Linked DNA regions of Homo sapiens: region 2 is linked to region 1. A link means that fine-mapping ties the variant in region 1 to the expression of a gene that starts in the linked region. Tissue or cell type: whole blood. Region 1 holds a variant in brackets; the other region holds the start of a gene. All regions are shown on one strand. Distances are from middle to middle.

Evidence for each region. PIP is the estimated chance that this variant, and not a neighbour inherited with it, causes the effect.
Region 2: it holds the start of NDUFB11, and the variant in region 1 is fine-mapped to the expression of NDUFB11 in whole blood (TOPMed, PIP 0.97).

The regions. Positions count from the first base shown.
Region 1 is chrX:47,254,916-47,262,505 of GRCh38, reverse strand. No RefSeq gene overlaps it. Among named protein-coding and RNA genes, the nearest start is that of USP11, 26 kb to the right of the region's middle. The variant T/C (reference allele first, on the strand shown) is at 3,306.
Region 2 is chrX:47,142,139-47,147,252 of GRCh38, reverse strand. NDUFB11 (NADH:ubiquinone oxidoreductase subunit B11) reads left to right here and starts at 2,551. Exons shown (of 3, transcript NM_001135998.3): 1 at 2,551-2,780; 2 at 4,509-4,639; 3 at 4,813-5,037. The coding sequence starts at 2,574. The coding sequence ends at 4,936. RBM10 (RNA binding motif protein 10) reads right to left here and starts at 2,032. Exons shown (of 24, transcript NM_005676.5): 1 at 1,768-2,032. RefSeq lists an enhancer at 1,739-2,008.

The DNA of each region.
Region 1 (7,590 bases):
GTTACAGGTGTGATCCACTGCGCCCAGCCTCTGTTGCAGCTTTCTGCTGTTTTAACATCAGAAGAGATGTAAGCTTTGGAATATGATTGTTACAAACTCTCTTCATTCTCCAAATACAAAAAATAATCTTTTTTAGCTTCTTTTCTTGTCAGCGTTCACCTGAACTCTGGCTATTTCCACAACAGCACAATCTGAGGCTTTTGGTGTTTCTATGTCCTGTAAAAATGGGGAGGCAGTCCTGTGACCTTGGTGGTTATGGGAGGTAGGAATGGAGACATAGATGAAATACATTGTACCAGTCAAAGCAGGTGATGTTCTCTCTTTGTTCCAGCAACAGAATAACAAACCTCCAGTTTTTGGATTCCGGATTAAGACAAAGAGATACTGCAAATAGCTGAAATTTGAAAACAAAAATCCTAGAGAAAGTCAGTTACTGGTTGCTTTCAAACCTCATGCCAGAGCCACAAATAAAGTAGCAATCCCAGCAAATTCGCAACATCTGCTGCCTTGCCCATCCTGTGATGGAATGCCCTTCACAAGCTAAGATGTCATTAATCCCACCATGGCAGGGTAGAAAGAAGTAAAGCTAAAGAATAAGATGATCTAGAGCAGGGGTCCCCATCCCTGGTCCGTGGGTCCATACCAGTCCATGGCCTGTTAGGAACCAGCCACACAGCAGGAGGTGAGCAGTGGGTGAGCCAGCATTACCGCCTGAGCTTCGCCTCCCATCAGAGCAGTGGCGGCGGTAGATTATCATAGGAATTCAGACCCTATTGTTAACTATGCAGGTTCTCCTTATGAGAATCTAATACCTGATGATCTGTCACTGTCTCCCATCAGCCCCAGATGGGACTGCCTAGTTGCAGGAAAATAGGCTCAGGGCTCCCACTGATTCTACATTATAGTGAGTTGTATAATTATTTCATTGTGTATGACAATGTAATAATAATAATGGAAATAAAGTGCACAATAATGTAATGGCTTGAATCATCCTGAAACCATCCCCCTCCAACCCCTGGTCTATGGAAAAATCATCTTCCATGAAACCGGTCCCTTGTGCCAAAAAAAGTTGGGGACTGCTGATCTAGAATAACTAACTGATTTCTAAAGAGTTGACCCTATTCACATGGCTCACCCCTTTGAATAATAGGAATACATTTCTTTTCTTACATTTTTTTTTTTTTGAGACAGTCTCGCTCTGTCTCCCAGGCTGGAGTGCAGTGGCCCAATCTCGGCTCACTGCAACCTCCGCCTCCCGGGTTCAAGCGATTCTCCTGCCTCAGCCTCCTGAGTAGCTGGGACTACAGGCATCCACCACCACTCCTGGCTAATTTTTGTATTTTTAGTAGAAACAGGGTTTCACTATATTGACCAGGCTGGTCTCGAACTCCTGACCTCGTGATCTGCCCGCCTTGGCATCCCAAAGTGTTGGGATTACAGGCATGAGCCACCACGCCCGGCCTCTTAAAATTTTTTTATTGGCCGGGTGCAGTGGCTTACACCTGTAATCCCAGCACTTTGGGAGGCTGAGGCGGGCGGATCCCGAGGTCAAGAGATTGAGACCATCCTGGCTAACACAGTGAAACACCGACTCTACTAAAATACAAAAAATTAGCTGGGCGTGGTGGTGGGTGCCTGTAGTCCCAGCTACTTGGGAGGCTGAGGCAGGAGAATGGCATGAACCCGGGAGGCGGAGCTTGCAGTGAGCCGAGATCGCACCACTGCACTCCAGCCTGGGTGACAGAGCGAGAACCTGCCTCAAAAAAAAAAAAATTATTTATTTTTATTTTTTGAGACAGGGGTCTCACTTTATCACCCAGGATAGCGTGCAGTGGCACCATCTCGGCTTATGGCAGCTTAGAACCTCCTGGGCTCAAGCAATCCTCCTGGCTCAGCCTCCCAAATAGCTGGGACTATAGATGCACCCCACCACACCTGGTAATTTTTTTTTTTTTGTAAAGATGAGGTCTCACTATGTGCCCAGGCTGGTCTCCAACTCCTGGGCTCAAGGGATCCACCTGCCCCTCCCAAAGTGCTGGGATTACAGGCATGAGCCATCATGTCTGGCTCACATTTCCTTTTTTTTTTAAGCTTACATATAATCATATTCGTTAGGAGGACTGAAAAGTAGTTTCTTTTACTGTAAGCAAATAAAATTGCTTTTAGGTACATGTTAGAAGCAACACAGTAGAAAGGGTGTGGCTCTGGAGAGAAGACCTAGCTAAAGATACCCCTTACGTGCTACATGACCTTGGGCGAGATGCCCAACCTCCCAAGCGGCTGCTCCACATCCCAGAGCATTATCACAGAGGACAAACGAGAATCTACCTGAAAGCCCTTTGCAATTTCTTTTTCTTTTCTTTTCTTTTTTTTTTTTTTTTTTTTTTTTGAGACGGAGTTTCACTCTTGTTGTCCAGGCTGGAGTGCAGTGGTGCAATCTCAGCTCATTGCGGCCTCCACCTCTCGGGTTCAAGCAATTCTCCTGCCTCAGCCTCCCGAATAGCTAGGATTACAGGCGTCTACCACCACGCCCAGCTAATTTTTGTATTTTTAGTAGACACAGGCCTCAGATGATCTGCCCACCTCAGCCTCCCAAAGTGCTGGGATTATAGGCATGAGTCACTGTGTCTGGCCGCCCTTTGTAATTTCTGAAGTCCCCTATACATTATTGCTTTTATGTCATTGGAGCAGTGCACAGTTTTTGTTGTTGTTGTTGTTTTGAGACGGAGTCTCGCTCTGTTGCCCAGGCTGGAGTGCAGTGGCGTGATCTCAGTTCACTGCAACCTCTGCCTCCTGGGTTCAGGCAATTCTCCTACCTCAGCTTCCAGAGTAGCTGGGATTATAGGCATGCTCCACCATGCCCAGCTAATTTTTGTATTTTTAGTAGAGACGGGGTTTCACCATGTTGGCCAGACTGGTCTAGAACTCCTGACCTCATGATCTGCCCCCCTCGGCCTCCCAAAGTGCTGGGATTACAGGTGTTAGCCACCGTGCCCAGCCAGCAGTCCACAGTTTTTAATAATTATTAAAGTATTTTTGTAGCTTATGCTTGTAATCTCAGCATTTTGGGAGACCAAGGTGGGAGGATAGCTTGAGCCCAGGAATTCCAGACCAGCCTGGGCAACATGGCGAGACCCTGTCTCTACAAAAAATATAAAAATTAGCCTGGCATGGTGCCACACGCTCGTAGTCCCAGCTACTTGGGAGGCTGAGATGTGAGGATCACCTGATCCTGGGAGGCAGAGGTTGCAGTGAGCTGTGATCGTGCCACTGAACTCCAATCTGGACAACAGAGCGAGACACTG[T/C]CTCATAAAAAAAAAAGAAAAGAAAAGAAGGAAGGAAGGAAGGAAAGAGAGAGAGCGAAAAACAAAGAAAGAAAGAAAGAGGAAGAAGAAAGAAAAGAAAAGAAAAAAGAAAAGAAAAGAGATGAGTTTAAAGCTGGAGACAAGGACAGGAGTTTGGGAAGAGGCAGTAGTGTTACCAAGAGGACACAAAATCTGCTGCCTTCAGAACAATTTCCTTTTGGAAAGAGAAGAGTCCTCTCCACCTCTGCCCCATTACCAGCTAGGCACAGAGAAGCCTACTGCCTGGGAAAGAAAGAAGCAGAAAATACCCTCAGCCAGGGTAGTGCTATAGCAAACCAACACCAAAATGTTGTTGGGTTCTAGGATGAAAAGAAACAAGATTCTAGAGCTGCTCAGAAGTTAGGACATAGATTGTCTATGACAATGGGAAAAAACTGGGTGGTCCCTTGGAACCCTGGTTTCAGACACTGTTCATTTTTAACAATACCAAAAAGCTATATTCATACTTAAGTTTTCTTCTATGGTGTTGTTACATATTGTTTTTACCATTTTATAGAGTAGCTAACACAGGTAGTGATCAGATCAGTGGGGTGGGTGGCAAATGCATGTGGACCATGATCAGCTATGCATTGCATTCTATGGAAACTTTAACTAAAGATTCAGAAATGGTGAGGGATTACACGCCATTTCTGTAAAGGTCGTCCATGTGCTACTCATTTTCCCTACTTTTCTATTCCTCCTTCTCCTTGTTTTCATCTGCCTTCTTCTCTTTTTAATTTCTGTATTTCTCTCTGTCCTATCTCCTTATTACACTGAAAGAATGTGCAACTTTTTTTTTTTTTAATGGAGTCTTGCTATATCGCCCAGGCTGGAGTGCAGTGGTGTGATCTGGGCTCACTGCAACCTCTGCCTCCCAGGTTGAAGCAATTCTTATGCCTCAGCCTCCCGAGTAGCTGGGATTACAGGCGCCTGCCACTATGCCCAGCTAATTTTTGTAGTTTTAGTAGAGACGGGGTTTCACCATATTGACCAGGCTGGTCTCGAACTCCTGACCTCGTGATCTGCCCGCCTCAGGCTCCCAAAGTGCTAGGATTACAGGTGTGAGCCACTGCGCCCAGCCTTTTATTTTTTTATTTTTTTGAGATGGAGTCTCACTTTGTTGCCCAGGCTGGATGAAGTGCAGTGGTGCAATCTCAGCTCACAGCAACTTCTGCCACCCAGGTTGAAGCGATTCTCCTGCCTCAGCCTCCTGAATAGCTGGGATTACGGGAGCACGCCACCACGCCCAGCTAATTTTTGTATTTTCAGTAGAGATGGGGTTTCACCATGCTGGCCAGGCTGGTCTCAAACTCCTGACCTTAACCGATCCGCCCACCTCAGCCTCCCAAAGTGCTCGGATTACAGGCGTGAGCCACCGCGCCCGGCCAGAATGTGCAACTTTTAAAAGGTGCAGTAAGAAAAACTTTAAAATCATATAGGTACCCATGTTGATATCAATTTTTGTCCGGTTGCTAAGGAAACATTTTTAATGATGAGAGCTGTGATGGCACACACAAAAAAGACTGTAAGCATTTCACAAAATGGATTACATTTTTTGGATATAAAGAATTATAAAAATCCAACAGTGTTAAAAGTAATAAATATATGTATATGGAGTTTTTGCTGTCTTTTAGTATCTATGATTAGAAACATATCAAGGCAAAAAGTTTGAATAAGTACTGAGCTAAGTAAGCCTCTATCTCAAGAAATGAAAAAGAAGAAGAGCAAAGTACATTTGTAAAAGTTGTGGGAAAGCACTTCTGCTTCTGGTCAAGATGGAGTAACAGGGACAAGACTTACTACCTGCTTCAAACAATAGATTTACACAAAATACATGCAATGACAGCTTTCAAAACAATAACATCAGAAAATGGAGGACAGTGGAAACAAATGATGTGAGCCTGTTAGCAGTGGCAAATCTGTCCAGGTCTACAGCAACCTCAATTCTTGCCTCCTCAGAAGAAAGAATTTGACTGGGCGTGGTGGCTCACACCTGTAATCCCAGCACTTTGGGAGGCTGAGGTGGGATGATCTCTTCAGCTCAGGAGTTTGAGACTGGCCGGGGCAATACAGTAAGACTTTGTTTCTACAAAAAATATTTTTAAAAAATAGCCAGGTGTGGTGGTGCACACCTGTGGTCCCAGATACTTGGGAGGCTGTGGTGGGAAGAACCCTTCAGCCCAGGAGATCAAGGCTGCAGTAAGCCATGATCATGCCACTGCACCCCAGCCTGGGCAACAGAGTGAGACTCTGTCTCAAAAAACAAAAAATACCAGCCGGGCGCAGTGGCTCACGTCTGTGATCCTAGCACTTTGGGAGGCCGAGTCGGGTGGATCACTTGAGGTCAGGAGTTCGTAACCAGCTTGGCCAACCTGGTGAAACCCCGTCTCTACTAAAAATACAAAAATTAGCCGGGCATAGTGGCAGGCGCCTGTAATCCCAGCTACTCGGGAGGCTGAGGCATAAGAATTGCTTCAACCTGGGAGACAGAGGTTGCAGTGAGCCCAGATCACACCACTGCACTCCAACCTGGGTGACAGAGTGAGACGCTGTGTCAAAAAAAAAAAAAAAAAAAAAAAAACCCAGAAAACAATGACATTCTTCACAGAAATAGAAAAAACAATCCTAAAATTTATATGGAATCACAAAAGACCCAGAACATCCAGTCTGTCCCTGGATCTAAGGAAAAAGGAAAATAAAAAAGAGAGAGAGAGAGAGAGGCTCCTAAAAGCCAAGAGATCTTGAGCAAAAAGAATAAAGTTGGCCGGGCACGGTGGCTCACGCCTATAATCCCAGCACTTTGAAAGGCCGAGGCAGGTGGATCACTTGAGATCAGGAGTTCGAGACCAGCCTGGCCAACAGGGTGAAACCCCATCTCTACTAAAAATACAAAAGCTGCGCATGTTGGAGTGCCCCTGTAGTCCCAGCTACCAGGGAGGCTGAGGCAGGAGGATCACTTGAACCCAGGGGACAGAGGTTGCAGTGAGCCGAGATTGTGCCACTACACTCCAGCCTGGGCGACAGAGTGAGACTCCGTCTCAAAAAAAAAGAAAAGAAAAAAAGAAGGGCAAAGAAACTGAATAGACATTTCTCAAAAGAAGACATATGAATGGTCAACAGGTATATGAGAAAAATGCTCAACATCACTAATCATCAGTGAAATACAAATCAAAACCACAATGAGATACCACCTCACACCTGGTAGAATGACTATTATCAGAAAGGCAAAAGATAACAAGTGTTGGTGAGGATATGGCATGAAGGGAACACTTGCAGGCTGTTGGTGGGAATGTAAATTAGTATAGCCATTATGGAAAAGTGTATGGAGGTTCCTCAAAAAGTTAACAATAGAACCACCATATGATCCAGCAAACCCACTACTGGGTATATATCCGAAGGATATGAAATCATGTTGAAGAGATATCTGCACTCCCATGCTTGCTGCAGCACTATTCACAACAGCCAAGAAAGAAAGAAAGAAAGAAACAATGAAATGCATCCCAGAACAAAAGCTCCAGGATACTTATAGGAATACAAAATATCCAGCAACCATAAGGTAAAATGCACAATGTCTGAGATCCAACCAAAGATTACCAGGAATGCCTTTGAAGGGAAAAAGGACCCATAATGAGGAGAATAATCAATCAAAACAGACTCAGAACCAACAAGGATGTTAGAATTAGCAGTGAAGGACATTAATACAATTATTATTATAACTTTATGTGTGATATTGTGATATAAGAGTAAGTATATATTTGGTCTTTGTTCCTGGTTCCTGGCACAGAGCTCTTAAAACTCTTACAATTTCCTGAATGGCGAGGTGAGAGGATCATCTTGTTGTTCATAACATGCCTCTTTCAATCATCCCTGAGTTTATGATCATCCCTGAGTTTATGCTAATGAGGTGACTCTTGGAGGGCCCCTAGATAGCTTCAAATAAGGGCTGTTTGCCAGCCCCACCCTGGGCCTCTGGGGAGGGGAGAGGGTCTGGAGATTGAGGTAATCATCCATCTCCAGCCAATGGCTTCATCAATCATGCCTACATGATGGAAAGTCCATAAAAACCCCTGAATGAAGGGTTTGGAGGGTTTCTGGGTTGGTAAACACATCAACATGCTGGGAGGGTGCCCCTTCCATATCTAGTCCTATACATCTCTTCCATTTAGCTGTCCCTGAGTCGTATCCTTTATAATAAACCAGTCATAGTAAATAATGTGCCTTCTTGAGTTCTGTGAGCCATTCTAAC
Region 2 (5,114 bases), 110 kb after region 1:
ACATTGTCTTCCAGCTCCCAGCACTCCTGTGCATCACAGTATGAAGGTAGCCCCTACTTGGCCTGCTCCTCCCTTTCCCCGCAAACATAAGGCTAGAGCCCACTGCCCTAGAAAACAGCAAGGACTTCAGCAGACAGGGGGCATCTTGCAGAGAGACCTGGCGGGGCCACCCACAGTGTGATCAGGGCTTTGCCACCTAAGACAGGTAGACAAATTCAAGCCTGGGGCTGCATCCCAGGGTGGGGGTAGGGGACTCTCAGGGCTGAAAGTCTTGCCTGAGATTCAGCACATCAGACAAGACTTCACAACAATGGGGGCCCCAGGCTCCTTCCACAGGCCCCAAGGGACCATCTCATCCTCCCAACAAGCTGCTGGCTGTCCCCTATAAGGCAGCAAAAGACCATGAAAGGCTCTTGGGGGGGTGTGTGAAGGGGCGAACTTGGCGACGAGACAGCTGCCACCTCCCTGGGCTCCTGGCCAACACAGCCTTGGCCCTCACACAGCAACTGGCTCAGCCCTGAGCCCTGTCTCTTATGTGCAGCCCGGTCCTAAGGTGGTTCCCTCCCCAGGGCTCAAGCCCGGTTTCCAGAGGCAAAAGGGGCCCTTTTGGAGGCTGTTCTGAACCACTGTGCTCTTCTATTGGGATGGAGCAGCAGCCACTTCATCCAACCCTCAGGGCTGTGGTGAGAACTCAGGGAGTCCTGAGAACCCTGTGACCCAGCCAGAGGTCAGGATGAATCCCAGATCTTCAGGCCCCACCCTCTGAATAAGAAGCAGGTAAAGCCAGGCAATAATAGCACCTGCTCAACACTAGGTTGCTGCCACACCTTTGCTCTATGCTCGTGCACACACATACACAGACAAACACACTCCAATTTTCTCTTCCTCCTCAAGCCACAGGGAACCCGAGTTACCTGCTCCCAGGTGGGCAAGAGTTAGAATCACACAGAGGCACTGGCGTCTGAGAGCACAAAAACCTTCAAGAGACTCTGGCAAAGGGGCCAGAGTCACACAGTAACATCCACCACAGCCAAGGGCCAGTCACAGACACGAGCCCCAAATAACTACGGGCCCACATCACAGAAGGAACACACAGTAAGGACCACAATTACACAGTGGGTCCCCTTTCCATGGATGAGCGTCAGTGTCACAGATACAAACTCCCCAAAAGAAGGGGCAATGAGTCACACACACATTCCCTGCATGCCCCTTCCCACCCAATAAGTGGGTTAGGGTCAATCAAAAGACAGTCGTCCCCCAAGCCCCGCCCCATGGATAAGGATCAGAGTCACAGACCGCCCCCCCTCAAAGGGTAAAGACCAGAGTCACATCCCCCCTCCGATCCCCCAGGAATAGAGACCAGAACCACAGAATATTTCCCCATGGACCGATAAACACCAGAGTAACACAGAGCAGCATCCCCTCTCCTATGCACAAACTCAAAGTCGCAGACAACCGCTTCCCCACTGATAAACTTCGATGTAGCCGACACAGTGATCCACAGTAGCCCACTCCCATCCGTCCCTCCCTTCCCCCAACCCGCATGCACCCATCCCATGTCCCAGTCGCGCACGCGCCTTTGCTCACACCAAAAAAAAAAAAAAAAAAAAAAAAAACCAAAAAAAAAAAAACCCTCCCGGGTTGAGACATTGCACCAACCCCTCCGTTCCGCGCATCTCCCCCGACCCGAAGTCCGCCCTCGCGCCTCCTCTACGTCCCCGCCCCGGGCCCCTTACCTCCGCCCCCACGACCAGCGTCGACGCTCACCTTCTCGGCCCGGGCTGTCAAGGAAGGGCTCCCAGACATCACCTCTGCCCGCCGCCACCTCCTCCAACTCTCCCAGCTCAGCCGGAGCCGGAGCGCGCAACAACCAAGTCCGAGACTGGAGGCAGATCGGGGGGAGGGGAGAAGCGCCAAGCGCGCTGCCCTCCCAGGGAAACTCACTGCCGCCTACTCCCAGCCGGCCACAGTCACCAGCTCAAAATGGCGACGACGAGAAGGGAGTCGGCGCTCCGACCACCATCCACCTACTAAGGAAGCGCGCTCTGGCCGGCCCCGGCGATTGGTCACCGCCCGCTAGGGGACAGCCCTGGCCTCCTCTGATTGGCAAGCGCTGGCCACCTCCCCACACCCCTTGCGAACGCTCCCCTAGTGGAGAAAAGGAGTAGCTATTAGCCAATTCGGCAGGGCCCGCTTTTTAGAAGCTTGATTTCCTTTGAAGATGAAAGACTAGCGGAAGCTCTGCCTCTTTCCCCAGTGGGCGAGGGAACTCGGGGCGATTGGCTGGGAACTGTATCCACCCAAATGTCACCGATTTCTTCCTATGCAGGAAATGAGCAGACCCATCAATAAGAAATTTCTCAGCCTGGCCGAAAATGGTTGGCCCCACGAAGCCACGACAACTGGAGGCAAAGAGGGTTGCTCAACGCCCCGCCTCATTGGAAAACCAAATCAGATCTGGGACCTATATAGCGTGGCGGAGGCGGGGCGATGATTGTCGCGCTCGCACCCACTGCAGCTGCGCACAGTCGCATTTCTTTCCCCGCCCCTGAGACCCTGCAGCACCATCTGTCATGGCGGCTGGGCTGTTTGGTTTGAGCGCTCGCCGTCTTTTGGCGGCAGCGGCGACGCGAGGGCTCCCGGCCGCCCGCGTCCGCTGGGAATCTAGCTTCTCCAGGACTGTGGTCGCCCCGTCCGCTGTGGCGGGAAAGCGGCCCCCAGAACCGACCACACCGTGGCAAGAGGACCCAGAACCCGAGGACGAAAACTTGTATGAGAAGGTGAGAGGCGGGGGGGGGGGGGGGGGTAGTGGGGACGGAACCCCGAAGGGGTCAGTCCGGGATCGGCAGATGGGGCGCTGTAGAGGACGTTCTTAGGCAGTAGAGGACTGCGCGGCCGGCGAAAGCCTAGAAGACTTGGGAATTTTGCCTACCTTGTGTTCCTCCTTTGTCTCTCGGTATCTTCGTTCCAGGGCCAGAGGCAGGATTGGTTTTATTTTGCAGACAGAAATCACACCTCAAGTGGACAGCGCTCAAAACACGTTAGAAGCAGTATAGTACAACGATAATACTAAACACCGATATGGCACTTGCTCGTTGCCGTCTGCATTCTTTTTTTTTTTTTTATAGGGACGAGATCTCGCTATGTTGCCCAGGCTGGTCTCGAACTCCTGGCTCAAGCGATCCTCTCGCCTCGGCCTCCCAAGGTGCTGGGATTACAGGCATGAGCCACCGCTCCGGGCCCCGTCTGTGTTCTAAACACTTGACATGCATTAGCTCATCTTATACTCGAAACAAACCCCATTTCGAGGTGGGCTCTATTATTATACTCATCCTACAGATGAGGAAACTGAGGCACAGAGATGTTAAGTGGATTGCCCTAGCTCACATAACTGAATACATGGTGGAGGTGGAACTGGTATTTGAATTTAGGGCTACCAGGTCTGCTGTGCTGTATTAATAGCAGACGCTGTGAAATCAGGCAGCACTGACGGTTACCCACCCGTGTGATCTTGGTAGCATAAACCCTTGGTGCCTCAGTTTCTTTGTCTGTAAGATGGGAACAGTAATAGGACACCTTCTAAAAAATAGGACACCCCACCTGCCTCATGTAATTAAATGAGTAAAAATGGTCAGAACAGCAGCTGGCACTTCGTAAGTATGTACTCAGCACTAGAATGTGTTTATTATTGCCATGTTTCACCTCACTGAGATATTGTGAGGTGTTTCTATGTGAAAAGACTGGCACATAATAAGTACTTCATCAATACTAACCTCTGGTTAAGGGGCTTGGATATATAGGATGCTTGTTCATTCTGTAAATATGTATTGAGGGCCTGCTGTATGCCAGGCTCAGTTCAGGGCCCTGGGGATACAGCAGTGTGGAAATCAGACAAAGCCCATGCTCTCATAGAGCTTACATGATAGTGGGGAAGACAGAAAATAAACAGTAAAATATTAGAAAACAATAATACAAAGTAGTATAATAGATAATATAACATGAGAATGTATGATATACAGAGAATGGGGAAAGTATGCTACTTAGGTAAACATAGACTAGAAAGAGACAGAAGGAAGAGAGGATGTGAAGACAAAGTTAAGCAAGATAAGTGGATAGAGAATGACTTGGGTGTAGGGGGCTATTTCATTAGCTTGAGCTATAAGAAATTGCCAGTATTCAACCATTTGTGACCTATAAAAATAGCAGTTTCCTATGCTTCAACTTTGAAAGACAAGGTAACTAGGGAGTGCCTCCTGAAGGAAGTGGTGATGAATCTAAAACCTTGAATGAGGAGACAGATCCAGCCATGACTAGAGCTGGAAGAAAGGCTTTCCAGGCAGAGAGAGCAGCAAGTGCAGTGGCCCTGCAGTGGGAAGGAGCTTGACATATCCCAAGAATGGAAACAGAGGAATTTAGTGAGAGGGGCACATGGAGACCAAGTTATGCAGGGCCAGAATAAGGCTTTGTGGAGCAGCAGGAAGCCCTCATTGACCTCTATTTCTCCACAGAACCCAGACTCCCATGGTTATGACAAGGACCCCGTTTTGGACGTCTGGAACATGCGACTTGTCTTCTTCTTTGGCGTCTCCATCATCCTGGTCCTTGGCAGCACCTTTGTGGCCTATCTGCCTGACTACAGGTGCACAGGGTGTCCAAGAGCGTGGGATGGGTAAGAGGCAGAGGCAGGGATGGAGGTTGAAGGGGATTCTGCCAGGAGTTTTGTTCCTGCACCATTGGGAATGGGGAGCTGAGATGAGGGATTGGTATCAGTTGAGGCTCCCTCACGTCTACCCCTGCTATTTGCACTACCAGGATGAAAGAGTGGTCCCGCCGCGAAGCTGAGAGGCTTGTGAAATACCGAGAGGCCAATGGCCTTCCCATCATGGAATCCAACTGCTTCGACCCCAGCAAGATCCAGCTGCCAGAGGATGAGTGACCAGTTGCTAAGTGGGGCTCAAGAAGCACCGCCTTCCCCACCCCCTGCCTGCCATTCTGACCTCTTCTCAGAGCACCTAATTAAAGGGGCTGAAAGTCTGACTCGCTAGTGTTGATTGTGTTGTGAAGGGGATATGGGATGGGGGTGTCAAAAGCTTTAAAAGGGCTGCTGCAACCTT